7 separate regions of the Homo sapiens genome follow, and regions 1, 2, 3, 5, 6 and 7 are each linked to region 4. The links come from fine-mapping of genetic effects on gene expression. A gene starts in region 4. Each other region holds a variant in brackets. All regions are shown on one strand. Distances are from middle to middle.

The links.
Region 1: its variant is fine-mapped to the expression of XYLT1 in whole blood (TOPMed, PIP 0.97).
Region 2: its variant is fine-mapped to the expression of XYLT1 in whole blood (TOPMed, PIP above 0.99).
Region 3: its variant is fine-mapped to the expression of XYLT1 in whole blood (INTERVAL, PIP above 0.99).
Region 5: its variant is fine-mapped to the expression of XYLT1 in whole blood (TOPMed, PIP above 0.99).
Region 6: its variant is fine-mapped to the expression of XYLT1 in whole blood (TOPMed, PIP above 0.99).
Region 7: its variant is fine-mapped to the expression of XYLT1 in whole blood (INTERVAL, PIP above 0.99).

Annotation. Positions count from the first base shown.
Region 1 is chr16:17,945,771-17,950,354 of GRCh38, forward strand. All of the region lies in intron 3 of LOC107984893 (a long non-coding RNA gene), which reads right to left. Among named protein-coding and RNA genes, the nearest start is that of NPIPA8, 390 kb to the right of the region's middle. The variant G/A (reference allele first, on the strand shown) is at 1,926.
Region 2 is chr16:17,336,994-17,340,993 of GRCh38, forward strand. All of the region lies in intron 2 of XYLT1 (xylosyltransferase 1), which reads right to left. Among named protein-coding and RNA genes, the nearest start is that of XYLT1, 130 kb to the right of the region's middle. The variant T/C (reference allele first, on the strand shown) is at 1,577.
Region 3 is chr16:17,438,538-17,442,537 of GRCh38, forward strand. All of the region lies in intron 1 of XYLT1 (xylosyltransferase 1), which reads right to left. Among named protein-coding and RNA genes, the nearest start is that of XYLT1, 30 kb to the right of the region's middle. The variant G/A (reference allele first, on the strand shown) is at 1,706.
Region 4 is chr16:17,468,804-17,473,303 of GRCh38, forward strand. It overlaps XYLT1 (xylosyltransferase 1), which reads right to left and starts at 2,157. Exons shown (of 12, transcript NM_022166.4): 1 at 1,631-2,157. The coding sequence starts at 1,993. LOC107987234 (a long non-coding RNA gene) reads right to left here and starts at 1,624. Exons shown (of 2, transcript XR_001752091.2): 1 at 1-1,624. It overlaps LOC105371106 (a long non-coding RNA gene), which reads right to left. Exons shown (of 3, transcript XR_933144.3): 3 at 2,204-3,301. RefSeq lists enhancers at 937-1,206, 1,327-1,376, 2,151-2,652.
Region 5 is chr16:17,547,542-17,551,816 of GRCh38, forward strand. No RefSeq gene overlaps it. Among named protein-coding and RNA genes, the nearest start is that of XYLT1, 79 kb to the left of the region's middle. The variant C/T (reference allele first, on the strand shown) is at 2,101.
Region 6 is chr16:17,446,747-17,450,746 of GRCh38, forward strand. The region is part of intron 1 of XYLT1 (xylosyltransferase 1); the gene reads right to left. Among named protein-coding and RNA genes, the nearest start is that of XYLT1, 22 kb to the right of the region's middle. The variant C/T (reference allele first, on the strand shown) is at 2,392.
Region 7 is chr16:17,369,440-17,373,439 of GRCh38, forward strand. All of the region lies in intron 1 of XYLT1 (xylosyltransferase 1), which reads right to left. Among named protein-coding and RNA genes, the nearest start is that of XYLT1, 100 kb to the right of the region's middle. RefSeq lists an enhancer at 147-236. The variant C/T (reference allele first, on the strand shown) is at 1,618.

The sequences.
Region 1 (4,584 bases), 480 kb after region 4:
GGTAAACTACACCTCAATAAAGTTGTTTATAAAATGTGCTATCACGGATGGATGAAATAAAATCGTATTAACCTACAAAAGATACCTATCAGGCTATTTTCTCAGCCCTACGCTTGTCCAAATGAAGGTGCTGAGCAATCAGCTTTGGAAGTAAAGTTTCAAGAACCAGGTTTGTCATCATAGTTGGGAAAGTTGAGCAAGCTGCATAAAGTACCTAACCATGAAACACCTACCTGTGTTTTGAAGGAGGCATTGAGGTATTTTCTATTGAAGGATATCCCCCATATGGAGGAATTTGCAAACTGAAAACACTTGTGATGAATCCCTAATTTCACTCTGTACCCTGGACAAAACAAGACCCAGCCCATAGAATTTATTTAAATGGTGGAATTGATTAGAATTCCAGGACCAATGCGAGAGAAGTTCTAAGGGAGAGAGATTGGGCTCTTTGATCTGCCTGGTTCCACTCTGACTTCATTCTAATTAGCAAAGCTTTTGAGGCAGACTGATAAGCATTCCGGGCACCGCACATGTCTGGCCACTGGCTAATTAATTAATTTTTGACTTTGAACAGTGACACTTAATTTGAAAACTTTCTACCATCCATGGATGAACGTGGAAAAGTAGGGCAAAAAGATGTAAAAATATGCTAAAGGTGCCATTTCAAATCCAGCTGATTTCCAAGAGGGCAAAATGGGTCAGTGAGTTAAATAAAGAGATGGACTGTGGGGAAGGGACAGGGGAGGGTGTGCTATGCCAGCTCTGCTTCTGCTGTGCTGTGTGTGTGGGCTTAGCCATCGATCCTCTCTGTTCTCTCAGTGTTTTCTCAGTCATTTTATTTGAAAATTAGGCGTCTCCTCGGCACCCTCATTTATTGAGAAATGACTGTGTGCATTGCCCATAGAGAGAAAAGGGGCAGAAAACAAAAACCATTTACAGAGAGGAGAATAGGAGGGTGGACAAAGCTTATAACTGCGCAGAGAGTTTAAGTGAACACTGTTCAGATCAGAGGTCTGCAAACCACATCCCAAAGGCCAAACCAGCCTCCTACCTGTTTTCATAAATATAATCTTGTTGAAACACAGCCATGCCCAATTTGTATATACGTTGTCTAGGGTTTTCATGCTACTATGGCAGAGCTGAGTTGGTATGACAGAAACTGTACGGCCCACAAAGCAGAGAATATGCACTCTGTGGCCCTTTGCAGAAAATGTCTGTCAGCCCCTGATCTAGATGGAGTCAGAATTATGCCTTCTTGGTGTAAGTAACTAAAGGGACACCCAGAAATCTTTTTTTTTTTTTAATCTTGAAAGCGCTTCTTTTTCTAACAAGGAGGGAGCTAACGTTTTTCTTAGCACCTCTGTGTGGCTGGTGCAAGGGCCCTTTCTCAAAGATTAGCCTCATCCCAAATCTTTGAAGTAAAGATGAACATGCTTATGTCAGAAAAGGCAACTGAGAAAGCTAATAACTTACCTGCAAGTTACAGAACTAATGTTTAAACCAGACTTACTTATCTGCAATATGATGCCTCCCTGCTATGTCAACATTAAGAGGAAGATTTTGGCAAGAGCCTCTGTCTGACATTCCCTTTGTAAGGGTCAAAGGGCTTTGGGAATAGACTTTAGAGTAATATATTTGAGCATATTTACGCAATCATCTGTGTGCCCACTCTATACTCCAAGCTTGGAGAGAAACCCTTCTATTAATCCCCCTTTCAAGCAGGTCTAAGTATCCCAGACCATAATATTTAACAAACCTTTATCAAACAGTTGGGGACTTCAAAATTTTTCACAGAGAGAAACTCATCGCTGTCACTGGAGTTACTGCCTCTCCAATGGAAACTCTAAAAATTTAGGTCCTTAATCTCCCTAGACCCAGATGTAAAAAGAAGTTCCTTCCTCTCTCAGCCCAAGGTCTTATTTCCC[G/A]TATCAGGATGGATGGCCATAGGAACAGACCCTTTCTTCAGAAGACACCCCCACTCCAACCACACAATGGTCTTCATCCTCCAAGGTACAGACAAGGCATTCAAAACATCTACAGAGTACTTCTAAAAGCATGGTTCATTCACTACCCTAAGGGCTATGCCAAGACTAGTCTAACTCAAGTTCAAAGTCCTTTTTCCAGCCTAAAATGGAGACATCAGGTCTGATTATATTTCCCTCTCAGCAAGACTCTGTTCCCCTGATCAACTATAAACAAACTTTTGGAAAAAGAAACCCAGACTTCTCGCAAGCAAGTAAGCTTCAGGTATCATTCAACCGAAATCCAATTTGAGAGAGTAGCAAGTTTCCTCTAACTCCACAAAGGCACAGTCCTGCTAAACATAATCTCATTTTTCATCATTAAATAGAACTCTGAGTATTTCAGGCTGTAGCTTCTGCATTTAATATTGACAAAGATTACTAAGAGCTCATATGGCACCCATGTGCAAATTAGAAAACAGCACCTCCTCTCGGCAGGTGCTTCTGTTAAAATTAAAGTGGTCCCTTCTCTGGGTGAAGATGCCCCACCCACACTGGGATGCAAGGCTGGGCAAAGAGAGCAAGGGCTGGGCTTCAATGTCACCATTGTGCAGTGAGCAACCTGCGCAGCCATCCATGACTGTACTTGGTTTTCTCGAGGAACACTAGTCATTTTCTTTACAACTGGGCCTTATATCCAAAGGCCCATTCTGATGACTTTCATAAACAAAGTTGCCTGTAAAATGTAAAATTGATATCCACCCCTAAAGAAAAACAAATGTTGAGATTTTTCTACAAAATAATTTGAACAACCTGAGTTGAATTCACAAGTCAGCCAACCGCCAGCTGTGTGATTAGACAAATTCCCTGTTCATCCATAAAACGGAGGCATCAATCCCCGTACTACTGAGATCTCAGGAATCCCAGCACTTTGGGAGGCCGAGGCAGGCAGATCACGAGGTCAAGAGATCAAGATCATCCTGGCCAACATGGTGAAACCCCATCTTTACTAAAAATACAAAAATTAGCTGGACGTGGTGGTGCGCTCCTGTAGTCCCAGCTACTCAGGAGGTTGAGGCAGGAGAATTGCTTGAACCCAGGAGGCGGCAGTTGTAGTCAGCTGAGATCACGCCACTGCACTCCTGCCTGGTGACAGAGCAAGACTCCATCTCAAAAAAAAAAAAAAAAAAAAGGAATACTTAAAATCTCTAAATAGACAATGCAAAATGACTTGGTAAACATAAAACGGTCTGTGGATATTAAGCAGTAACCACATAAAAAGACAGAAACAGCAAATGGTATCATTGGTGCTTCCATGGAAAGACATTTCTCTTATTCTTGATGTTTTTGGCCACAGTATTCTTCCAGCAAAAATCTGAGAAGGGCCATTACTTGTCCCTGATTTTCCAAAAAGGTCATCCAAGCAATAAAGGGTTTCCAATGTGGAAGATAATTAGCTCCCAGAGCCTTCCCATTCCACCTGATCAATTAGACTAAGTACTAAACACTCCCAAGCCTGAAGTGCATAAAATTGAATTGTATGTATGCTTTCCTGTTATAGAATGGTAATGTGCTGCTTTCAGAATCTCTCACACGAGCTGGGAGTAATCGGAAATTTTTTTTTCAAGCTACCTCCCTGCCTGGTGATAAGGCACCGGCTAGCTGGATGTGTTTGACTAGGATTTTTAATTTCTTGGGGGGGAAAAAAACCAACAACTGCAATATGGGTTTTTGTTTGGCTCATCAGTGTTGCTTTAAAGACTTCTGTGGAATGCCCAAATTGCAACTGGGCTGTCTTAACAGTGCCTTCCACCGCTGGAATCTGCAATCCAGAATCAGTGACTGTGCCGGGGATCAGCACCAAACGCAAGGCCGGCCCATTTTTCTTTGTCAAACGCTCCCCGTGACAGGAGGAGATGTTAGACAGCAGTGCAGGATTTTTCTTAGCAACCCACCCAAGCATAGATGTACCCCTCTCTCCTAGGAGACAAGTTATTAAAAAGATGTATTTTTGAAAGCAACCTTCTCTGCATGCAACATCAGTGTCAACAAATAAAGGGGGAGGGAAGGAAAGGCAAAGGGGGAGGGAAGGAAAGGCAAAGGGAGAGCTGTCCAGAGAGAGGAAGGAAAATGCCTCTGTGGGCACAGTTTAAGAAATGATCAATGCATGTGTCAAAGGCTGTGATAAGACACACTGAGCTTATCAAAAACGGAAGCTCCAATGACAGAGTTCACATGTGACAGGAAGATAAGAGAAGCCGGGTTTTTCCTCTCCCTCTTTTCTCTCCCCAAAGACCCTGTTTTAATTTCCCACTCTGCATGTTACATTTTCAGGCCCAACAGAGACCACCTAACCTCGTTCAATTCCTTTTCTAATCTCACTGTAAATGTTTCCAGGAGACTCTGATTTGCAGACGCTGACCTCAGTGATATTTGGGGAAATAATGTGCAAGTCCCTGTTGGAGATCCAAAACGCAGCTGAAGGTTTCAGAAAACACTGAACATCTCAAAAAGGAGTGTTAAGAACACTGAGCTGGAAATTAAACATGCACATACATCTTGGCTCGATCATAAACACACTCTGTGTTCTTGCATAAGTCACATCACCTACCAGAAATGGAGT
Region 2 (4,000 bases), 130 kb before region 4:
TTTGTAAGATCGTATGTAACCCCAACTGTGGCTCTGAACAAAAAAATATTATTCAGCCCCAGAAAGGCATATAAATCCCTACAAAGTACAGGGTGGGTTTTTTGGGTTTTTTTAAGTGGTTAAATTCTCACAATTTTTTGCCTTTGTTCAGTGCAGGGAGACAGTGGTCTGCAAAGGTGGTAACACTGACTTCCTGAGAATCTTTTTTCTTTGAGACAGGGTCTTACTCTGTCACCCAGGCTAAAGTGCAGTGGTGCAGTCATGGCTCATTGTAGCCTCCACCTCCTGGGTTCAAGCCAGCCTCCCACTTCAGCCTCCCAGGTAGCTGGAACTATAAGCACATGCCACCACACCCAGCTAATTTTTTATAGAGATGAGAGGGGGTCTCACTGCATTGCCCAGGCTGGTCTCAAACTCTAGGGCTCAAGCGATTGGCCAGCCTCAGCCTCCCAAAGTGCTAGGATTACAGGCGTGAGCCACCATGCCCGGCCTCCTGAGAACCTTTAATTGAACTTGCAGCATTGCAATTCAGCCCAAGCTCCTTGGGTGCAGGACTTCACGTTGCTAAATCCAGGGAAGCCTACCTTGGTTACCTGGGAAAATGGTGTGGGAGGTTCCTTAGATCTCTCCCTAGCCACCTGCTCCTTAAAAACATCACAAGAGGTTGTGGGACCACAAACCCTTGTCTCCGAGAATTCCTTCTTCTCTCCAAACTTGCCCTATTCACACATTCCCGATCTTATTTTTTCCTGAGTCCTACTTTGTCTGTTCCACATTTTTTCTTTTTCTTTTTTTTTTTTTTTGTGAGACAGAGTCTTGCTCTGTCACCCAGGCTGGAGCGCAGTGACGCCATCTCGGCTCACTCCAGCTTCTGTCTCCAGGGTTCAAGTGATTCTTCTCAGCCTCCCGAGTAGCTGTGATTACAGGCATGCGCCACCACGTCCGGCTAATTTTTGTATTTTTAGTAGAAACGGGGTTTCGCCATGTTGGCCAGGCTGGTCTTGAACTCCTGACCTCACCCACCTCGGCCTCCCAAAGTGCTGGGATTATAGGCGTGAGCCACCGCACCCGGCCCCCGTTCTACATTTTAATGGCCCTCAAATCTGTCCCCTCCTTTCCTTTCCCACTTTCCCTGTCCCAGTTCAGGCCTTTATCATAACTCCCCTGAACTGAATGTCCCCTTTTCTGATTCCTTGCCTCTAGGCTCACTTCTGCAATCCATTCCCCACGAAGCAGCCAGAGTGATCATCTCAAACTGATCTTGGACCATGCTCTTCTGCTCCTCAAACATCTTCAGTGGCTCCCCATTACCTACACGATACATCTGAAGCTCCCTGATGTGGTCTACAGTACCTGGGCCTGTGCCTGCCTTATCAGTCCCATCCCCTGCCAAGGCCTGCTCCTCTCTTTTACATCTGACACTTTGGAAAAGGCTGCAACAAAGGAGAAGTTGAAACCTACGCTTTGCCGGGCTGGCTGGAAAGACTTTATAAAGGAAGAGGAGCCTTGTGCTCCATGAATATTGTATTTCTTGTGATTTTCTGACAAGGCTCAATATTTTCATCTCTGTTCTCTG[T/C]CGGGAATGGTCTTTCGTGTCCCCTTATCCTGGTCATTCGTGGCCTGCTCACATTCACCCTTTTTTTTGGGACGGAGTCTCGCTCTGTTGCCCAGGCTGGAGTGCAGTTAGTTCAAGCAATGCTCCCGTCTCAGCTTCCAAAGTAGCTGGGACTACAGGTGCCCACCACCACAACTAACTAATTTTTGCATTTTTAGTAGAGACGGGCTTTCACCATATTGGTCAGGCTGGTCTTAAACTCCTGACTTCAGGTGATCCACCCACTTCGGCCTCCCAAAGTGCTGGGATTATCATTCACCCGTTAAGGTCATGCTGTGGGCAACAGCTCCTCCAGGAAGCCTTCCAGGAGTGTTCTAGGTTATACTGCCCACTCCTACATGATCACAGAACTGATAACACTCCGCAAGGGAGAAACATCAGAAATCTATCTTACAAAAATTCAACTATAAACAGTCAGGAGGGAAAAAAGAGAGAGATAGATGGTGACACAAATCATTTAAATAATGTGGAATCCTGTGCACCACTTGACTCTGTGAGTATATACCCTGTGATGAACATCTTGCTATGATTTCTCTCTCCATCTAGCCCAGAGTCATTTTTCTGGAATCTGTGAGTTTGGGGATCTATGGAGAGAGAATTCTGGGGGTCTTCGAACTTGTACATACCCGCTGATGAACTTGTACATATTCATAATTATTTTCACTAACTCTAACTGAAATTTAGCATGACCTTCAATTATGAATATAGGCAACAGACTGCAGTAGTATTAGCAACACCCGAGACTTTGACACCAACAGAAATTGCAGATATTTTCATGTCACATTGCTTTGGTGGCAGATGTCTCCAAATATTGTTTATACTTGTCATTACTTCAAAATTAGGGTAGTTATTAGACCTGATGCCAAATCTACTTTAATGTGTTAATAAAGAAGCAAATGTATTATTACTCCACAGTTTTCTGATTTTTATATATACTTTGACGGCTGTACTTCAATATAACCACTTTCCTTTTTAATCCTCTGCATTTTTTTGCATTTGAAAATATTCAGAGAAGGGGAGCATAATTTTGACCAGATTCCGAAGGGATTTACAACACAGAGAAGGTGACACTATCCTGCTGTAGACAGTGAGCTCACTGGTGGCAGGGCACCAGGTCCTTCATCTTCCAATCCCCAGCACCTAAAGCAGTGGTTAGTATACAATAGGAATTTTTAAAAAATGAACTGAGATATTTTATCTATCTATCCTTTTTTCCCTCCTTCCTTCTTCCTTCCTTCCCTCCTTCCGTCTTTTCTCCCTTCCATCTGTGTATCCATCATCATCCATCCATCACCTATCCATCCATCCATTCATCCATCCTCCATCCATCATCTATCCCTCCATCATACATCCATCCATGATGCATCCATCACCCCTTGTCCACCCATCCCTCTATCCATCCACCCATCCCTCTATCCATCCACCCATTCGTCCACCCATCTATTATCCACTCATTTATCTACCCACTCACCTCTCTATCCATCTGCCCACCCATCCACCCACCCATCCTGTATCCACTCATCCCTCTATCCATCCGCCCATCCCTCCATCCAACATATATCCATCCATCTGATTCAATCTACAGTTCTAACAGTTGACACCTCTGCAGTTGGTTTCCCAGATCCAGTTCTGCAGCTCAACTGGAGACTCCCTAAGAAGGAAAAGTGACTCACTGTGGAAAGAGGTGATACTATTTCCTTGTATGGCCGTGGGCATGTCACAGAATGTGCCTGCAGCTCAGCTGTCTTTCACAGGCTGAACACAGAGCTCTGTCTCCAGCTGCCACCACATGGGCTGGGGCCCCAAGCTCAGGCAGAGCGCCATGCCTGTGTTCAGATCATTTCCTTACCCAGGAACATTTTGGTTTTCTGCTTTCGAGGTATCACAGAATGGTTAAATCTTAAAGAACAATCGCCACCATTACCAATTACACAAACTGCACAGAATGGTAGTTAAGAGTTCTGCGTAGGTCCAAAGACCAGCTCCCCACTCACTCTCTATATGACCTTGGGTGACTCAGTTAACCCTTTCCTCTCTGTGCCTCAGTTTTGCTATTTGAAAGAGGGCATAACAACCATACCTCACTTACACAGGTTTATGGGGAGATTAAAGAGAATCTTCCTTATGGGAAGACTGAGTTAATCCATGCACTGCACTTAGCACAGGGGCTGGCACATAGTAAATGCTCAACAATTTTTAGCCATCATTATCCATCATTTCCTCCAAGGAGGCAGACAATCAGAACATTAGGACCCAGAATCCTGAAAAATGGAGCTATGGAATTCACAAATACCCCATGTAAAAAAATGCTTAGATCCACTCATATCTAAAATTCAAATCAAGGCAGCAAGATACTGTTTTTACTCATTGGTTTGTCGAAGATTA
Region 3 (4,000 bases), 31 kb before region 4:
CAGACTACCAGCGTTCACATCTGTATCAGTTCATTCCCGCATCCCTAGAAAGAACAACTTGAGACTGGATAATTTATGAAGAAAAGAGATTTAATTGACTCAGTTCCACAGGCTGTACAGGACGCATGGCTAGGAGGCTTCAGAAGACTTACAATCATGGCAGAAGGTGAAGGGGAAGCAAGCATATGGTGGCAGGAGAGAGAGAGTGAAGGGGGAGGTGCTACACACTTCGAAACCATCAGATCTCATGAGAACTCACTCATTATCACGAGAACAGTAAGGGGAAAGTCCGCCCCCATGATCCAATCACCTCCCACCAGGCCCCTCCCTCAACACTGGGAATTACAATTCAACATGAGATTTGGGTGGGGACACAGAGCCAAACCATATCAGCATCCAAGCTCAACAGCTCACTTACTAGGTGATCTTGTATGAGTCAGTACACCTCCATGTCTGTTTTCTCATTTATAAATTAGATCTGATCATTGAAATTAAAGAGTTGTCATAAGGATGAGTGCAATACAGAAATATTGGTAAATTCTGGTAAATACAGAAATTTAAGCTGTTATCAAATCATTGTCATCATCATAGTGGCTAAAAGTTAGTGAAGCAATGATTTAGATCAAGTATGGCAGGCACATGGCATACGTGGCACAATTTCTTCCTCCTGCATCCATGGTGGACATGGCTAGTTGATTGCAGAACTTTGCCTTTAAACTCAGATGCAGCCTCAGAATTGGTCACACAGAGTTCCAGTTATCCCCAAACAAAGTTGACGGACAGATGGGTGAAAGATTTTTTGCTACCCTCTAGAACCTCATCAGAAACCAGATAAAACCAGCCGCTCCCAGAGAAACAGTCACTTCTTGTTGGATAGTGGAAAAGAGCGGCTCCCTAAATTACAGTCATCCTTCCAAAGACCGACATAATTTTGCCATATCTGCATGTATTGTGTGCTATTATTTATGCAATGTTTATTTGAATATATTTAAAAGAGAAACTTATACCTGCATCCCAAATGAAAAATGAGTTGACACAAGCCCTAAACAGAAGATAATGTGAAAAGAAAGAAAAGAAAGGAGGAATGGTACTGTTGTAATCCGGCTAGAAAACACTGTAGTAGTAGGTTCTGAATGTCTGCTTTCCATTGTTAAAAAGGGAAACTGACAAGTTTTAGAAAGGTGATAAAGATGTGCTAACAACAAACCGAGACTTCCTCTTTGACTCAACCACTTCCTATAAGATTCAATGTCATTTAAATTGTGCCAAGGTACCTGTAGTAGGCAGCTCCTAAGATGGCCCCAAGGATACCCACTCCAGTATCCCCACTCCCACCCAAATCCATCCGGAATGTGAGCCAGATTTAGTCACTCACTTCTAATAAACAGAAAAAATACAGAAGTGATGGTATTCCACATTCAAGGTTTGGTTCTAAAAAGACTGCAGCGTATTAGGTGCATCTTAGGTGCTGTCTCTCCCATATTCTCTCTTAGATCCTTGGCTTTTGGGGAATCCAACTGTCATGTTGTGAGCTTCCCTATGGTTAGGACCTGTAAGAGGCTTCCAGCTAACAGCCAGCAAGGAAGGAACTGGGGCCCTTGGTGCAACAGCCCATGCAAAACTGAGGCCAGCTAACAACTACGTAAGTGAATTTGGAAGCAAATCCTCCCCAGTAGAACTTTCAGATGAGACCAAAGATCTGGCC[G/A]TCAACATGAATGCAGAATGAACTGATAACCTTCATAACATTTTCTAATTAACACATATTCATTGAGAAAGCAAAGATTCAAGAGATGCACTGAACCAGAGCACGCTGCTTGCTCACCCATACAGGCAAACAATAAGTGGTAAGTATCAGAATGACTTCCTGGATGAGAATTTTCATGTACACATACACACATAATTACAGTCAGCACAACTGCATTCAATGTCAGCCATTTCTATCAGCTCTTTCTCGTTCTTTGATCTTAATTACATGAACAAGTAGCAGACCATGAGCCTTAGAGGCCTGTGGACCTGAGTTCCAGTGCCCCCTCTGCCCCTAATGAACTGTGTGGCCTTGAAATAGAAATGGAATCTTATCCGTTCATCTGCAGAATCTGGATACTAAGTTCCACTTCACATGTCAATGAAAGGAATAGATGCATTTGTATTTGAATGTGATTAGCATGGTTTATGGTTGCCTAAATAAAATATAAGCTTCCTAGTGTAATATTCTCCATGGACTACTGCTCTCTGCTACGATCTATAATAACCCAGGCTGGAGAAGTCCAGTAGGGGTAAGTTTCACACTTTGGGTCAGGGGAGTCAGCACTGCATAGAAATCTAAAGCAAAGGTGGCTGAACGAGAAAAGCTAAGTTCCAACACTTACTAATGGCGTGGCTGTGAGCATGGTACCGACCCTCATCTGTAAAACGGGCATAACCAGTGCCTACCTATGTTCTGATGGCTGAATGAGATAATATAGTTAAGGACTCAGAGTAGTGCCAGGCACACAATAAAACAAACAAATGTTACATATTTTGTCAAAATTATCATTAATTTTTTTGAGATGTATTCTTGCTTTGTCACCCAGGCTGGAGTGCCTCAGCTCATGCCTCCGCACTCCAGCCTGGGCGACAGAACGCCTCCCAGGTTCAAGCGATTCTCCTGCCTCAGCCTCTCGAGTAGCTGGGACGACAGGAAAAATTATCATTTATTGTTATTATCACTATCATAATTTAATTCATAAGTGGTTATATAGAGACCTTTATGATAAATCCAGCTCACTGAAATGTTTTGTTTGGCCACACAGGGTGTTACTGAAAAAAACACAAAACTGAATTAGTTGTTAATATTTATTAAATATTGCACTAAAAAAAAGGAAATTTCCGGTTGCTTTTAATACCTGAAAGAATGGATAACCCTGGGCCTGATTCTCTTACAGTCACAGGCAGTGGAGCCAAGAAGCAACAGTCCACTGCCTCTGCTCTTCTGTCCACCAAAGTCCTCACCATTCCCTATCGCCCTGCACCTGTCCTAGAGTACCAACTTACTTCTCCTGGCCTCAAGGGAATTGGGACTTTGGACTCTTGTTTTAATTCCTTAAAGTCCTGCCTTAAATTTCAAATTCTTGGATGATTTTTTTAAATAGCAGGTACTCTAAGTAGCAATCGCAAGAACAGATCTTGAATAAGATTAAGTCTCCCTCAGGAAATCCTCAGCAACACTAAGTGTCAGATAATGGCTGAGGATAAAGATAGGATCATTATCAAAAGGAGGATAAAGATCCAGCTCTCTACAATAACCCTCCACACGTGACCCAAAAATGAGCTTCCAGAGCTTAAACGTCAAAGCGTTAAAGTTATTTTTGCCATCCCCTTCTGTGATGGTTAATTTAATGTATCAACTTGATGTGGCCACAGAGTACCCAGATAGTCAGTCAGACATTCTTCTGGGGTGTCTTTGAGGATATTTCTGGTTGAGATTAACATTTGCACTGGTGGCTGATCCACCCCCATGTATGGTGAGCTCCTCTGCCTGGCTTCTTGAGCTGGGAAACCTGTCTTTTCCTGCCTTTGAGTTCAGATGAAAACATTGGCCCTTCCCAGATCTTGAGACTGCTGGTTTTCAGACTGGAACAACACTCTGGCCCTCCTGGGACCCAGCTTGCCACCGCAGGCCTTGGGACTTCTCAGCCATCATACTTGTATGAGCCAATTCCTTATAATGAAACTGTATGCGTGTGTCTCATATACATCCCATTGGTTGTTTCTCTGGAGAACCCTGACTAAAAAAGCTGTTATCAAATTGATAGTGCAGAGCTTACAACTCATTGCAGATCAGAATCAAAAGTGTTAAAGTGATTTTTGCCCACCTACCCCCCACCTCCATGATGGTTAATTTTAGGTGTCAACTTGACTGGGTTATGGGGTGCCCAGATATTTGGTCATTCTTCTGGGGTGTCTGTGAGGGCGGTTCTGAATGAGATTAACACCACATATTGCCCCACATATTTAAGTT
Region 4 (4,500 bases):
TCTCCCCTACACGTTCTTACACTGGACCAGCAGGACACGACCCACAACCCTCCCACCCCACCTCCTGGGCTCTGGATGCACAAAGAACTTCTAATTGCATTTCTGCGGGAACCCATCACTATCAACTCCAAGAGTTCAAAGGCAGCGTTTCAGAGTACCCCTCTCTGTAAAGAAGAGATCGCAGGACACTAGGAATGTTCTGGTTCTCCGTCAGGCAGCTCACGCCACTATTCTCCCCGCAAATGAGGGAAAGACTTCTCCCTGCTACCCACACAGCAACGTGAAATGCCATCACATCACGTCTTGGGACTGGCTCAGTTCTCAGGCATGAAGAGCTGCACTCCGGCAGAAAGGGTCGCACAGACTCCGAAGAAGTTTAGCAGCTCAGAAAGCATCACGCTGTGTACTAAGGCAGTCTTCAGTGAGGACTTCCAAAGTGACAAATGATAGAAATATGCATTCAGTCTTCAGGATCCTGAAACCATCCCCCTGGTGTCTAATATCCTTTAACGGCTAGGCAAATCCTTGCAGACAAGTAGTGTGATGAAGAAACAGACAGACACACAACACATTGGCTATGCCCTAAGGCAGAACTCACGCCCCTGGAGAACTGAGACCTTGGCTCTGAAATGGGGACTCCGGCCTCCTGCCCCATGTGCTCCTGCTCCTAGCTCAGTAGGCTGGGCAAGGCAGCCCAGAGAAGGTGGGAAAGGTATCCCTGGAGAAGTTAGGGACAGGGTAGGAAGACAAGTCAGTTCCCCACCCAGCCACCCAGATGGCCCCAGATCTGCGGAAAAAACAGTTTCAGAGCCCTGACTGTTCACACCCACGAAGGGCAAAGTAATCCCATAGGAGTGGAAGCCCTGACGGTGTGGTCGGACACACAGCTGGTGACCTGAACCGGCCGCAACAAGACAGAAAGACAGAGACAACCAGCTAGGAGAAGGAGCCATGCCCTGAAACTGGAGATGGGGAGGAGATAAAGTCACAGAGGGCATGGGAGACGGCAAGGTTAGAGACAGAGAAGGTGAAGACGGAAGGCTCAAACATCCAGAGAAGAGAAACAGAAGACCCAAAGTAAGACCAGACACCCCGGACTGAGTATTGATTCAGGGGCATGGTCGGGGACTTGGGACGCCCAGCTCAGCCCTCATCGCAGGCCAGGACGAACAGAGGGCTCAACTGTCTGCACCCAGCTCGGCAAAAACCAGAGAGATGCTGCTGCGACAACCGCCCAGGAACAGCGGCTGAGGATCCGGGGAGATCCACTCACTCAGGCAGGGAGCGAGTCACCAAGACCTACACGCACGGAGCAAGTCACCTGGGGTCCCCAGCAAGAGTGATGGGGAACAGGAACCCAGCCAGGCTCCGGTAACCCCCAAAGCGCCCCCGCTGGAGAAAACTTCCCCCAGACCCCAAGGGGTCCGTGCTCAGACTCTGAAAGGGGCAGCCCACGACCCCTGAGCCTTGGCAGGGACCCCACCCGGCTTCCCGGGGCAAGAGGCGATGTGGAGTCGGTAGGCTTGCAGAGTCCCAGTCTGATGACCGAGTTCAAGGGCTAGGGGGGCGTGGGGTCGGGCTGCCTTCCTCCCTCCCTCGCCGCGGGGCGCGAGCCGAAAGGGCATCTTACCAGAGCCCGGGCGGGCAGTGCCCCCCGGCTGGCCGGCTGCTGTCCCCGCGGTTCTCCGGGGCCGCCTCCCCGCGCCCGCGCCTGGGGCCCCCGTCCTCCTCCTCCTCCGCCGCCGCCTCCTCCTCCTCCTCGGGCTGCAGCCGGCTCGGCGGGCAGGTCCCGGCGCTCCCGGCGCGGGGCCGGGGCCGGGGGCGGCTGCTCCCCGCCGCCGACCGCTGCGCCCCCGCGGCGCTCCCCGGCCCCGGAGTCGAGGCTGCTGAAATTCCACACGACCAGCGTCTGCAGCAGCAGCACCGTGAGCGCCGCGAGCAGCGCCGAGTGCGAGCGCCGGGCCAGCCTCCGGGCGCACGGCGCCGCCACCATCTTCGGAGCGCGGCCGGCGAGCGAGGCGCGGGGACCCCGGCACGCTCCGGGCCGCCCCCGCGCTCCCCGCAGCTCCCGCGGCCGCCGGCTGCCGCTCGGGCTCCCGCTCGGGCCGCCGCCGCCGCCCCCCTCCCCACACCCCTGTCCCCGCTGGAGGGGAGGGTGATGGGGAAGGCGCCGGGGGGACGCGGGCCGAGGCGGAGAGGGCGGGGCCTGGGGGAGGAGCCGAGGGAGGAAAAGGAGGAGGGAAAGGAAGGGGGTGGGGGCGATCAGAGAAGACAGACACCCCTCAGGACGTAGTGGGAGTAGGATGGGGGGCGAGGGGGACAATTCCCAAGGCGGAAAAAGAGAGGCAGGGGCCGCGAAACAGGGGACCTTTGGTTGAGGGTGGGCCCGCTCAGAATCCAGGGGAGGTCAGGAAGAGAGGGGGTCCCGAGGTCCTGTTTTCCCTGTGGGCCGCTGGAAGGAGGCAGTGCGTGGAGGAAGCTCCTAGCCCCGGAGTTCGCGGTCCAGGGATCTTCTGTCGGTACCAGACCGGTTGGCAGGTGGACACGTGAGAAACATTTCAGGAGTGTCAGAGCCACAGTCTGATCCCTTCATCCTGGGCTTGAAGGGGTGGGGAGGAGGCTTTGGGTGAGTTTCTGGAGTTAATCAGCACAAGCTCTGTGAGTGACTCCTGAATCACACACAATCCCCGGTGCCAACGATGTACTAAGTGTTCACTGAGTCACTTCTCTGGTCCCTGAGGACTCACAAGCCAAGAGACTCCAAACCCAGTTGGCAAGTGGTATAGCGGCAAAAGGGAGACCCGTGGAGTTACTCAACCTTCGCAGGATGCAAGCCCCAAAGGCTGGCCCCGCAGCCTCCCAGCGTGTCCTTTTCCCCATCCATCCTGAAGTCCCCCTTCCTGTCTGCACAGGGCCCAGGTCCTGGGGAAACAGGTCTTGCTCTTGAAAGTGGAGTTCTTTCCCATCCTGACTGGTCTGTCCCGGTGACCTTGAGCCAGGAGGAGGAGGACTCCTCCCTGAGCCCAAGCTTTCTCCTCTGTCGTTTAGGCAGAATGATCCCAATGGACTCAAATTTCATCCCGAGCCTTCTCTGACTCAGTCTTTCTGGTTTTTCCCTCCCTTGTCCTCTTGCCCAGGGCTTTATACACAGCAGCGCAGAACAGTGAGCATATGGGATGGCGTTGGTGTCCCATACGGGACCTAGCACTCTGGGAATACAACAGCAGATCAAATCAGTTTGTGAATTGAGGACTTGGCGTGAATGCTTCGCATCTTGTCTGCTGTGCTTTTTCACCTCATCCTAATTTACAAAGAGAAGAAAGTGGAGTGTAATGAAGGCTCATCAGACAATGAGGCAGGGAGTGGGAAGAGATTGTTTCATCCACTCCACAAGCATCCGTGAATACAAAGCTTGTGTCAGACACTGGGCCAGGTGCACGCATCCAAAGGTGAATGAGGTTTAATCTCATCTTCAGCAAGCCTGAGGTCTAGAGAAGCCTGATGTGGATGTTAATCATTAAAATATAGTGAGATAGGCCTGGGCGCGGTGGCTCATGCCTGTAATCGCAGCACTTTGGGAGGCCAAGACAGGAGGATCACCTGAGGTCAGAAGTTCGAGATCAGCCTTGCCAACATGGTGAAACCCCGTCTCTACTAAAAATACAAAAATTAGCCGGGCATGGTGGCACACACCCCTGATCCCAGCTACTCAGGAGGCTGAGGCAGGAGAATCTCTTGAACCCAGGAGGCAGAGGCTGCAGTGAGCCGAGATCACACCACTGCACTCCAGCCTGGGTTACAGAGCAAGACTCCATCTAAAAAACGTATATATAAATATATATATATTGTATATATATATATTATATATAATGTATATAATAAATATATTATATATAATATATTTATATATATGTACATATAATATATATAATATATAATATATAACATATATATAATATATATATTTATATGTAAATATATATAATATTATATATATATATATGGTGAGATAAGCATTGCTGTAGAGATGTGCAAAAATGCTAAGGGTTCATGAGGGCAGGACGGGAGTAAGCGCCAAGAAAAAATGCTTTCTGAACCCATGTAATTAGCCAGTCCACTTGCCTGAACAAGAAAAGTATAAAATGTATGCTAGTGGGGGTTGTAAACTCCAAACCAATCAACCTTAGTTGTATCTAAAGCTTAGCCAGGCATGTAGCCTGGCATAGAGGCCTTCCCTTTGGGCCCAGCACCCCTAACCAGGAGTAAAAGACCAGAGGCAAGTTTCTAGGGCCACCAGTCATCTGTTTATCAGTTGGGGATATTTTGTTTACAAGCAATAACATCTATTACTAACAGTAATAAGACTTAAGTCTATCTTTTAAGTCTTTTTTTTTTTTTTTTTTTTGACACAGTCTCACTCCATCACCCAGCCTGGAGTGCAGTGGTGTGATCTCAGCTCACTCCAACCTCTGCCTCTTGGGTTCAAGTAATTCTCATGCC
Region 5 (4,275 bases), 79 kb after region 4:
TTTTCTCCTGCTATAGAATGTTTCTGAAGCACTTCTCTAAGGAGAGACAAATGAATGCCCAAGCTATACTCTCTATAAATTTACACTTACATGAAAGGAAGAAGTCATCCCTTCATTCATCCATCTATCCACCCATCCACCCATCAATCCATTGATATATCAGTTTGTCTGTCCATCCATTCATCTTCCTATCCATCTTTCCTTCTATCCATCCATCCATCCGTCCGTCCGTCCGACCGTCCGTCCGTCCGTCCGTCCATCCATCCATCCATCCATCCATCCATCTGTCCATCCATCCAACCATCCATCCATTTCATCAATTAACAAATATTTTAGCACTTAATGAGCTGAAGTCAGGGATTTTCATTGCAGGCCTATAGGCCATGACCAAACATTTGAATTTTATTCTAACAGTAATGAGGTTTTATGTAAGGGTTTTAACCTGGGGCTAGCTTCATCTTATTTAAGTTATAATGATTACTTTGGAATATGGAAGATGGACTGGAGGGAGCAAAAGCAGAAATTGAAAGATGTATCATCTAAATAACACAGTCCAACAATCCTATTGCCTTCAATCACATGGGCTTCTGTGCAATTCAACAGGCACCTTTTACAATTTTTTCAATAGATTTTTGGCGAACAGGTAGCGTTTGGTTACACGAATAAATACTTTAGTGGTGATTTCTGAGATTTTGGTATACCCATTACCCAAGCAGTGTGCACTGTACCCAATGTGTAGCCTTTTATCCGTCACCCCCAACACCCTTTCCCTGAGTCCCCAAAATTCATTGTATCATTATTATGCCTTTGCATCCTCATAGCTTAGCTCCCACTTATGAGTGAGAACATACAATGTTTGGTTTTCCATTCCTGAGTTACTTCACTTAGAATAATGGTCTCCAATCCCATCCAGGTTGCTGTGAATACCATCATTTCATTCATTTTTACTGCTGAGTAGTATTCCATGGCTTGTATATATATCACAATTTCTTTCTATATCACAATTTATTTATCCACTTGTTGATTGATGGGCATTTGGACTGGTTCCATATTTTTGCAATGGCGAATTGAAACAGACACTTATTGAGCTGCTACTGAATACCAGGCCCAGTCAATCTGGGTGCAGGGATGACCACTGAATGTTTCCTTCCCTCATTGGAGCTGATACTACAGTGGTGGATGGAGAGAAGAAAGCTGACAATTGTGACCAGGATGGGACAGCAGATACACAGATGCCAAGACAGTAAGGGTGGAGGCCTTGACAAAGTCTAATAAAGGCAGAGGTAAGCCCTCCAAGGGGGGCTTCTTGGAGGAATTGGTATTTAAGCTGAGGATATAAGGATGCCTGGGACTTGGCTGGGAAGTGTACTCTTAGCAAAGAAAACAGGGTGAGTGAAGGCACAAAGCATGACACTGCAGAGTTTCACGTGGGAAGCCACAAGAGCCCTTCAGGAATGAGGCAGAATACTACATGGGTATGTGCGTGGAGGGGTTGTGGGCAGGCGTGGTGACAGCTGACAACTGGGGTCACTATGAGTAGAAAATGAGACTCGAGATACCAGTGGAGGCTAAGTCATGACAGATCATATGTAGATTACATCCTGATGGTACTGGGGAGGTACTGATTATAAAAAGGAGAGGGTATAAATCCCCCTTCCTTTGCTTCTTTCTGAGTACAGAGCCATGGTCTGAGCACATCTGGATGAGAAAGAACGTTTGAAGGCTGAGCCCTTAGGAAGCAAATTCCATATGCCATTTGTTGGTATAAGATGTTTATGTGGGGAACATATTTTCAGGTGCAATTATTTCTCTTGCAAAAACATGACCTGTTTCTCCTATTATACTTATCATCTATTTATTTTGAAGAGTGAGAAAACAGACTTTAAAAATGAACAAAAATTTAAACCTGCAATTTTTTCATCTAGTGATAACTGTTACTATTTTATTGTATGATCTGTCATTTAAAATTACATAATCACGACTTTTCTATAAATGGGATCATAGCCTGCACACTGCTTTATTAGTTGCTTTTTTAGTTGGAAATACAGCATCAACAGCCTCTGTGTTTTCTTCCAAGGGCTGCCAAAACAAAGTGAATGG[C/T]TTAAAACAATAGACATGTATTATAGGTTTAGAGGCTAGAAGTCCAAAATCAAGGTGCTTGCAGGGCCACCTTCCTTCTAAATCCCATAGGAGAATCCTTCCTGGCCTCTTTCTGGCTTATGGTGGTCACTGGTAATCTTTGGCGCCCCTTGGCTTACAGTTGCATAACCCCAGTTTCAGCCTTTGTCACTTGACATTCTCCCTGTGGCTCTCTGTCCTCACATGGTTGTCTTCCCATGGGACACCTTTTGTGATGGTTCATGCTGCATATCAACTTGATTAGATTGAGGGATACAAAGTATTAACCCTGGGTGTGTCTGTGTGGGTGCTGCCAAAAAAGATTAACATTTGAGTCAAGGGGCTGGGGAAGGCAGACCCACCCTTAATCTGGTGGGCACCATCTATCAGCTTCCAGGGAATACAAAGTAGGCAGAAAAACTTGAAAAGGAGAGACTGGTCCAGCCTCCCAGCCTACATCTTTCTCCCGTGCTGGATGCTTCCTGCCATCGAGCATCAGACTCCAAGTTCTTCCGTTTTGGGACTCAAACTAGCTCTCCTTGCTCCTCAGCCTGCAGGCAGCCTATTGTGGGACCTTGTGATTGTGCAAGTTAATATTTAATAAACTCCCCTTTATATATATTTATATGTGTATATATATGTGTGTGTATATATGTGTGTGTGTATGTATATATATATCTCAAAAAGTTAAAGAATGATCACAGAGCCTAGCAATTCTGCTCCCAAGTAGATGCCCAAAGGAATTGAAAACAAGTGTTCAAACGAATACTCTTACAAAAATGTTCATGACAGCACTAGTTATAAAGGCCAAAAGGTGGAAACAACCCAAACGTCCATCAATTATATATATATATATATATACACACACATATCCTATTAGTTCTGTCCCTCTAAGAGAACCCTAATACACCTTTCATATTGGACTAGGGGCCCACCTTACTCCAGAAATATCTCGTCTTCACTAAACATCTGCAGCCACCCTATTTCCAAGGAAGGTCACATTTTGAAGTACTAGGGGTTAGGACTTTGTGAAAGGAAAGTACCTTGGGCCCCCAAAATCGCTAAGCTAAAAGGAAAATTCAAGCTGGAAACTGCTGAGGGCAAACCTGCCTCCCATTTTATTCAAAGTCATCTCTGTGCTCACTGAGATAGATACATATTCTGATTGCCTCCTTTGGAAAGGCTTATCAGAAACTCGAAAGGATGCAACCATTTGTCTCTCACCTACCTGTGACCTGGAAGCCCCCTCCCTGATTTGAGTTGTCCCTTTGTCCCCGCCTTTCTGGACAGAACCAACGTACTTCTTACATATATTGACTGATGTCTCACGTCTCCCTAAAATGTATAAAACCAAGCTGTGCCCCGACCAGCCTGGGCACATGTCGTCAGGACTGCCTGAGGCTGTGTCACGGGCACGTCCTCAACCTTGGTAAAATACACTTTCAAAATTAACTGAGGCCTGTCTCAAATTTTTGGGGTTCACAACTTCGACTTTTTTTTTTTTTGAGATGGAGTCTCGCCTTGTCATCCAGGCTGGAGTGCAGTGGCACGATCTCAGCTCACTGCAACCTCCACCTGCTGGGTTCAGGCAATTCTGCCTCAGCCCCCTGAGTAGCTGGGGCTACAGACACACACCACAAGGCCTGGCAAATTTTTTTTTTTTTTTTTTTTTTTTTTAGTAGAGAAGGGATTTCACCATGTTGGTCAGGCTGGTCTTGAACTGCTGACTTTGTGATCCGCCCACCTCAGCCTCTCAAAGTGCTGGGATTACAGGTGTGAGGCACCACACCCAGAGGACATATCTTTTTTTTTTGATGGGGGAGACTCGGTGTAACTCATAACAGCCTCACTTGCCATCTAACACTATTTTTACTGGCTACACACTATTACATTTTGTAAATGTACAAATGTCCCTGGGTCCATCTTTGTCACACTGAACAAGCAATCTGCTGCGTGTCCTTGTCCTGCCGTGTGTGGTGACAGCAGCCATCAGCCTGAGCACTGTGATGCTGGGTACCTTCCAAACTCACCCAATCTTCCGCTCCCTGCTAGTTGCTACTGACAGAAAAAGACGGTGGACTCAAGTTCTCTGAAAATCCTTTCAAACACAAGGGCAAGAGCAAAAAGGAAAACTTCACATAACCAGAAGAGTCAATG
Region 6 (4,000 bases), 22 kb before region 4:
GGTGAAAGTCTGGGGACTCCCACTCAGCCTGGAGACTCAACCAACCCTCAGCGGGGAACAGCCCAACCCAACCAGAGCTGAGGCCACCCGCTGCTCCCTTCTCAGGGCCCAGGGTCAGCCAAGGCCATTTTCAAGTGCGGGGGACTGCAGCCAAACTCGCTGAACCAGACCCAGGGGAGCCCAAGAGGGACCTCTGGACTCAAGGGAAGAGGACGCTCTCATCCCTGTCTACTCTCCCACCCACCCCCTCCTCCCCTCCATCCCTCCCTCCTTCGGAGAGCCTCCACATTCGAATCTCCGAAAATGGTTTTCACAACTCAGTTAGCAGCAATCAATTATTCACGACCTCGCTTCCCCACCAACTCATAGACTGTCACTGTTAGCAAGATAATTTCTGGACTCTGCCCAACAGCCCTGCTCTAAACCAAGCGGCCTGCTATTTATTTCCTCTCTTCCCTAAGACCCTCCCAATGCCCACCAACCACTATCACTCTCAACACAGGACAGAGAGACAGATGGGAAGTCCCCTGGGTGCCTGTAGCCTGGGAGGGACCTGACAGCCAGGGGCTGCTCCCAGCCCACGTGATACATTTCAGGCTTGGGGCAGAATGTCTGACCTTAGTTTAATCCAACTGGAAAACAGGACTCAAGCATTCTAGACCCTGTGCCAGGCTCTGGGACAAATCCCACATTATTTTATAAAACGCTTTAAGCTCCGAAAACATTGTGTCCTGCACAAAGCATGACTTGGGAGGGTCTCCCAGACATGCCGTCCTGCTGCTGAGTTCATGGGTCAAAGACATTTGGAACTTGGCAGGGGCTCATATTTTAAGACTACCACTAGCATTTCCATCCTAGAAGCTTGAAGCTGTCTTTAGGAACATATTCCTACATCCCAGGGAGAAGGAGAGAGGTGCTTATGGGATGCTCTTGGAAAAAGAGTTTCAGCCTATGTCGTAAGACCCATGGAGGGTGGTTGGATAGCAGCTCTGCTGTGTGAACAAGCGACCTTCCACGAAAGCCACTTTTCACCCTCTAAGCCTCAATGTCCACATTTGTAAAATGGGAGAATATGAGTACTACTTCTGGGGCTGCAGTAAGAGTTTTAAAAAATGAGGCATTTAAAAAACACCCAGTACCTTGCTTGGCACATTGTGGACATTGTGGCCTCTGTGCTTCATTGTAAGACCCTGTCGCTTGTGACATGCATCATTGATTGAATAACAATTTGGGGCAAAAGGGTGTGTGCTGAAACATTAAGGAAACATACACATCAATTGTAAAATTCATCCCAGATTTCAGAAAGGCTATTTACTAAATATTAAAAATGTGTATCTTTGGCCAGATGTGGTGGCTCACACCTGTAATCCCACCACTCTGGGAGGCCAAGGCGGGTGGATCACTTGAGGTCAGGAGTTCAAGACCAGCCTGGCCAACATAGTGAAACCCCATCTCTACTAAAAATACAAAAATTAGCCAGGCGTGATGGCACATGCCTAAAATCCCAGCTACTTGGGAGGCTGAGGCAGAATTGCTTGAACCCGGGAGGCGGAGGTTGCAGTGAGCCGAGATTGCGCCACTGCACTCCAGCCTGGGCGCAGACAGAGCAAGACTCTGTCTCAAAAATAAAATAAAATAAAATGGCTGTGAGCCTGGGCGACACAGTAAAAAATGTGCATCTTAAAATGAAGCATATTATCATTATTATCATTATTACAATTGCTGTATTCATTTTAGGTGGGAAAATGCATACAGAGAAGCTATGTGACTGACCGCAGGCCACACAGCCAGCAACACAATCTAGTCCCCACACAGCTCCAGAGGAAGGAGGGAGAGGAAGAGGCAGAGTTGACCAGGCAAATCTCCCTCATCCAATTCCTCCTCCTCCTACAAGAATCAACAGTAATAATAATAATGGAAGATGAGGGTGAGGGGAGGTGGAGGGGGGAGGAGGAAGAGGGGGGAGGAGGAAGAGGGGGAAGGGGAGGAGGGTGGAGGAGGAGGAGGGCAGAGGAAGAGGAAGAGGAGGAGGAAGCAGCAGCAGCAGCATGTTATGGTGCTTAATACAGGCCCAGACACTGTGCTAAATGAGGTGCATGTATTAACTCATTTATTTCTCCTGACAACCCTTTGAAGTGGGTTCATCATCATCCCCATTTTACAGATGAAGGAGCTGAGGCACAAAGACTTCAGTCACACAGCTGCTGGGTGGCAGAGCCAGGCTGCGAACTCCGGCACCTTGGCGCCAAGTCCCCGTGCTTCTCTACTGCATTGCACTTCATTCCACCAACTGAGACAAAGAGGGACGTTTTGGTGGAGAAGGAAGTGGCATATAAGTGTCATGCCATGCCTGGTCTCACCCACACGCCCAAGGAAGTTCCTCTGAACCCA[C/T]AGAGCATGCCCTGGGCTCCCTCTGATGAAAGCAAGTTCATGCCTCTCTTCCACTCTCTCCTGCTGCCCCAGGCCAGCTGAGCAGGCCAAAGGAGGGCTGGGGCCAAATCTGCAGCCCCATCCTGGGGAAAGGCTCTGACGACAGTAGCCAGCTTCTCACTGCTGTCTGCAGGATCTCAGCAATTCCACGGGCATGGAGAACAGCAGCCCCTGGAGAGGGTAGGAGAAGATTGGGTGTCTGCCAGGCCTGCAGCTGTGGACACTTCCCCTATGGGCTGCGGGGACGGGGCAGGCCCAGCACCTGGAAGAGGGCGCCTCCCCTGTCTGGCTGGTCTTCAGTCCCATCAACGGGACTTAGCATCAAGTGACGTGGTGGTTATGCACACGGGCTTGTGGGGAGCTGTGCAACCTTGCGAGAGTTACTTCCCCTCTCTGTGCCTCACTTCCTCTGTCCATAAAACAGTGACTCTGACAATGCTGACAACACTAGGTGTTGGAAGCATTAAATATAAAACGCCTAACATGTAGTATGTGCTTAATAAATGGTAGCTGCTAATTACTATTATTTATCATCATCAACAGGACTATGCATCAACTACTAAGAACACAGGTGGACCTTAAGGTGCCATCAGTATGGGTGAGGAGCTGACAAGAACCCATGGAACAAGGCATGATTCCTTGTTCTAGAATATCTTTGGCCTTTGGATCTTAAAATGTCATCTTAAAGTGGGGTTCCATAGCTCTCACTTTTAAGACATCTCATCTGATCTTTCAGGCAATTTCTGAAGGAAACAAAAATATTTACTGAGCACCTATTGTGTGCCATTCACTGTTTCCACCACTGGGAATAACCTGATGGAGTTAATGAATCCAAGACCAGCTATGATGGTGATGGCAGTTACTAATAAAAGGTGAGAAGGACCGGGAGTGGTGGCTCACACCTGTAATCCAGCACTTTGGGAGGTGGAGGCAGGCAGATCACTTGAGGTCAGGAGTTCAAGACCAGCCTGGCCAACATGGTGAAACCCCACCTCTACTAAAAATACAAAAATTAGCCAGGCATGGTGGCAGGCGCCTGTAATCCCAGCTACTCAGGAGGCTGAGGCAGGAGAATCGCTTGAACCCAGGAGGCAGAGGTTGCAGTGAGCTGAGATTGCGCCACTGCACTCCAATCTGGGCAACAGAGCGAGACTCCGTCTCAAAACAAACAAACAAACAAACAAACAAAAAAAAAAAGGTGAGAAGGATTCTAGAGTTTATTGTTAGGTAGAAGTGGGAGGTACTGGGAGGAAAGGACTCTTTTCTGCAGACAATCACACCAAAACAGCCACGTACACATGGAAGTGGGAAAGGACACGTGGGTCACACACACGGCTGGAAGAAGAGACATGTGCAATCAGGGCACAGGTAACCACAAGAGACCTAAAAGTTCAGAGCACAAGGGACCCAGAATCCCTCAGACCATTTTAAAGACGGGGAAACAGAGAACCTGAAAGGCAGGCAGCCCAAAGCCACACCAAGCAAGACACAGAACAGGTTCTGGAATCCAGGTATCCTGACTCCTGAAAGTCGAGATCACTTTGTCTTGCGTCGTAAACAGACTAAGACA
Region 7 (4,000 bases), 100 kb before region 4:
CCCTTCTGTTTGCCACAACCCCACCCTGCCCACCTGGGCTGAGCCCTGAAAGCATCTAAGTTTATGACCTTCCTATCTGTTCACCACCATACCTTACCCCTCCCCCACAAAGGAAGGTACCATGTTACCCCATGAACATGACTCCAACCCTCACCCGCCAACCTCAAGAAGAAAAATTCGGGATCCCGTGACTTCACAGCAGAAACAGAAAAACTCAAATAATCCATCAGGAAGTTGAGCACTGAGGTTAATACACACAGGACCATCTTCCTCTAGCTCAACAGTCTTGACTTTTCAGGGCCGTGACCCAGAAGGGAGGTGCCCGTGCAGAAGGCAGAACAGGAAGAGGTTCTTAGCACCCACTGTTTTCTCTTCCTGCACAGCCGCCTTGGGCAGCTGCCTGTGAACAGCCTGGCTGTTTTTCTCCTAGCTCTCTCGGAAGGAAGTGCTCTCATCACCCACGACAACAGAGTTGGCCCGAGGAGCCAAAAACGTGCAAAGGGGCTCCAAGCCCAGCTCTCCTTCTGTTCGGGGCAGCCTCAGAGACAGGAAGATGGGAAGAAAGTATGGCCTGGGATAGAACATCCTGCGAGACCCTTACAAAGCCCCAGCTGTGGGGGAAGGGAACAACAGGAGGGGGCCAGAGGAAGGGGGTCCAGGTCACACCAATTTTATACAATGAGCTCCTTTCATCCGTGAATAGAGGACTCTCCTTAACTCTGTCTCAATGGCTTTGTTTCTGAAACGATCAATTCTACACCCAGAAAGCCAAATTTGCCAGACCTCATGCCAAGGTCAGGCAAGAGCCTGAGATCCCCCAAGCAAGTTGATAATCAACACGCAGGAGACGACGCTGTGCTAAGTCCCATTTGGCGGATCCAAAGCTTACAACGATCCGCTTTCATTTCTACGCCTTCTGCAGTGGGGCGGGGTTGGGGGACCCTCGCTCACATGCATGCCACGCTTGGTGGAACTGTAGGCTGTATTCAGGAGAGTAAGTGTTACTTTCCCAGGGACTTCATTGAGACATCTGCGGGGAGGGCAGGATGAGAAAGAGCTGGAGAAACAAGATGCAAGGTAAAGTGTGTGGTCTCACACTGAACACGTTCATGAAGTGGTGGGAAGCAACCCTAGTGACTCAGCAGTGGCCTCTGTTTAGCCAGCACTTTGAGAACACGATCTTCATGGGCTGACTGCAGAGGTGGCCAACAGAAACTGGAATCTACAAGCAGTATTCAGCTCAGGCATAGTTTGTTCAGCCTGCACAATGTTTTAAAAAGAACAACAAAAACCTACATAGGATGCCAATACTTCACATTCAGGAGGTTTCCCATAAAACTGCAAAGTTCTGGCATTTTTTGGAAAAATCAGAAGACCTAGCTACACAAATCCAGCATTTTCCTAAGGCACTGCCTTTCTGGCACTGGAAAGCAGCTATCTCCCTTAGAAGGGTCACAGGCCCTCCTGCTTGCCACAGTCCCCGCCCCAGACACATGTCCTTCACTTACGGCTGCCAGTGTGGCTGCTGTGGGCATTGGTGTTTGTAATCTCTGGTTTAGTGGATCCTAAGCTAAGCCCAGCACTTTCAGCTGGAGGACCTGAGGTTAGAGAGAAGGA[C/T]GGGATATGAACCATAGACAGGTTGTAAAGTAACGTGGCTGCAAAGTCCAAGAATAATTTAACTCAAGAAGCACCTATGAATGCACACCCAGGAATACAAGGCAGAGAGCAAAGTTGACTCCCATGGATAGGGGTGAGAGTCCTGTCTTCTCATCAGCCCCTGCTACATACTTTTGACAACTTGTCCCACTTCCCCAGGACCAGGGACTATCTTCTTTGTTTTTATGCTTAATGAAGTCCTAAGACTGCCACATAGAAAGCACTTGGTAAATTCTTGCTGAACCAAAATCAACGGAAACCCAATTCATGTTATAGGTGGAATCTGAGAGATGTATGCTGAGAACTCAGCCAACTTCTGAGCTGTAGGATGTTTTCCTGACTGTAAGTCAAGGCAAGTCCTCCCTATAAAGAAGAGTTTGGGGTATAAATGACACAGCAGAAGGAGACAAGCTCAACCTACTGATTGGCTAATGTCTGAGATGAGGAAGCAGAAAGGTTAGTCTTTATAGGATATGTAGCATATCTGATGAGCTATGGTCTGTTAGGAAGGTACTATACGTACTAATTTCATAAAATTGAAGTATGTTCCAACTTATCAAAGGATGCAAAAACTCCACAGAAGGAAGGAAGGACCTCATGTGGTGGCAGGTGCAGCATATTTTACTGCAACCTTTCTAGGTCTAAAAAGGTAAAATGAGGTTTATCACATCTGCTTCTGCTGTGTATAGCCATGGCTAGTTTTCTCCAGCTCTGTTTATTAAGAGACAGAGAGAAAGAAAGAGAGAGTGTATGTGTGTGAATATGCATGTGTGTACACACACATATGTGAGCATCCACATGCACATACAGGTATGCATGTGTGGTCTCTTTCATTCAACACCCCCCCAAAAAAAGTTGCTATGGGATCTGTAGATTTTGTTTGCTGAGTATCCCTAATTTTGGAATTCCCTCTGTTCTAAGTTGCCCCATTCTTGGTACTAATTTCAAATGGCTGTGGGGGAGGGGAGGCTAGCTTCAGACAAGATTCCACTAAGAGTTTTACTTCTGAGCTGGGATAGAAGCAGGAAAGAATAACAGGAAAAACATGCAGCATCCCATCTCTGCACTTTGCATTTAGTTATAATTATTCACGCAGGAGCATCTTTAAACACCAAACGAGGGAAATATTACAGTTGTTCTGATTTCACATGCTAACTGTGTTTACATGCTAACAGCATTTCTCAGGGACAATTATCTTATTACTAGTGCACTAATCTTTTCAATCTTTTCAACACATTTTACAGCTGCAGACTTCAAAAATTAAGGCTAATTAAGACCTTGCTTTCAGCAGGTACAGTAAACTACTCACATTCCAACATGGTAAAAGAAAATCAGTTTAGGGGAAAGGGTGTTAGAGGGGCACAGTGTCAATGGCAGACAGAATACATTAGATAGCTTCCATCAGTGTGAGGACTACAACTCTCCCAATGCTAATGTTCAAGAACAAGTTCCATTAATGGTAAGGCCTGTCGAATTCAGGACCAAGGACAGCTGGTCTGGCCCATTTTTAAGAGAAAGTGGGTATTTTGCATTCAATTATCCGTTTCCATTCATTATCTTCTTCCGTGTGACTTCAGCATAGAATAGTGGCTAAGAACATGGAAACTTGTATCAGAGTCTCTGTGTACAAATGCCGGCTCAATTATTTTCCGTTTGAACTTGAGCAAATTACTTGAGATCTTGGTGCCTCAGTTTCCTCATATGCGAAGTAGGAATAATAATAATGACATATACCTACTTCCCAGGCCTGTTATTAGGATTCACCGAATATCTGTAAAGCACTTACAACAATGTCTGATCATAATAAATCATCAAATACGTATTTCTTTTAAAAAGTGTGGTCTATAAGGACTAACAACAAACATCTGTTTTCTAACACGTTCTTGACCTCACATGTACTCACTGCATTATGGGCCATTTGAGGGCTGCTAATATATAATCATAGCTATATTTATTGTGCCTGTTAGCAATACATTCTCCAGTTACTTGCCCTGCTATCTCATTAGCTGCCATATAAAACCAGCACCTTGGATCATCCAATATTATTTTTTGTTTTGTTTCGTTTTAAATCACAGAGAAGCAGAATGCTCTCTGAAGGGCTGTTGTTGGAATCCATATTCACAGTCCAGCTTCTCAGATCCCAAGCAAAAGCTCTGGCATCCCAAGTTGTGGCGTCTGAGAAACCAGTAATCAGCGTCTACAGTGCTCGGGCCACTGACGTTCATCAGGCACCTACTATGTGCCTCAACCTAGGCTTGAGAGGCTGCTTTTTGAATGCTCACACCAACTCTGTGGGGAAGATAATGCTGGCCCCATTTTATAGATGAGGAAACTGAGGCTTCAG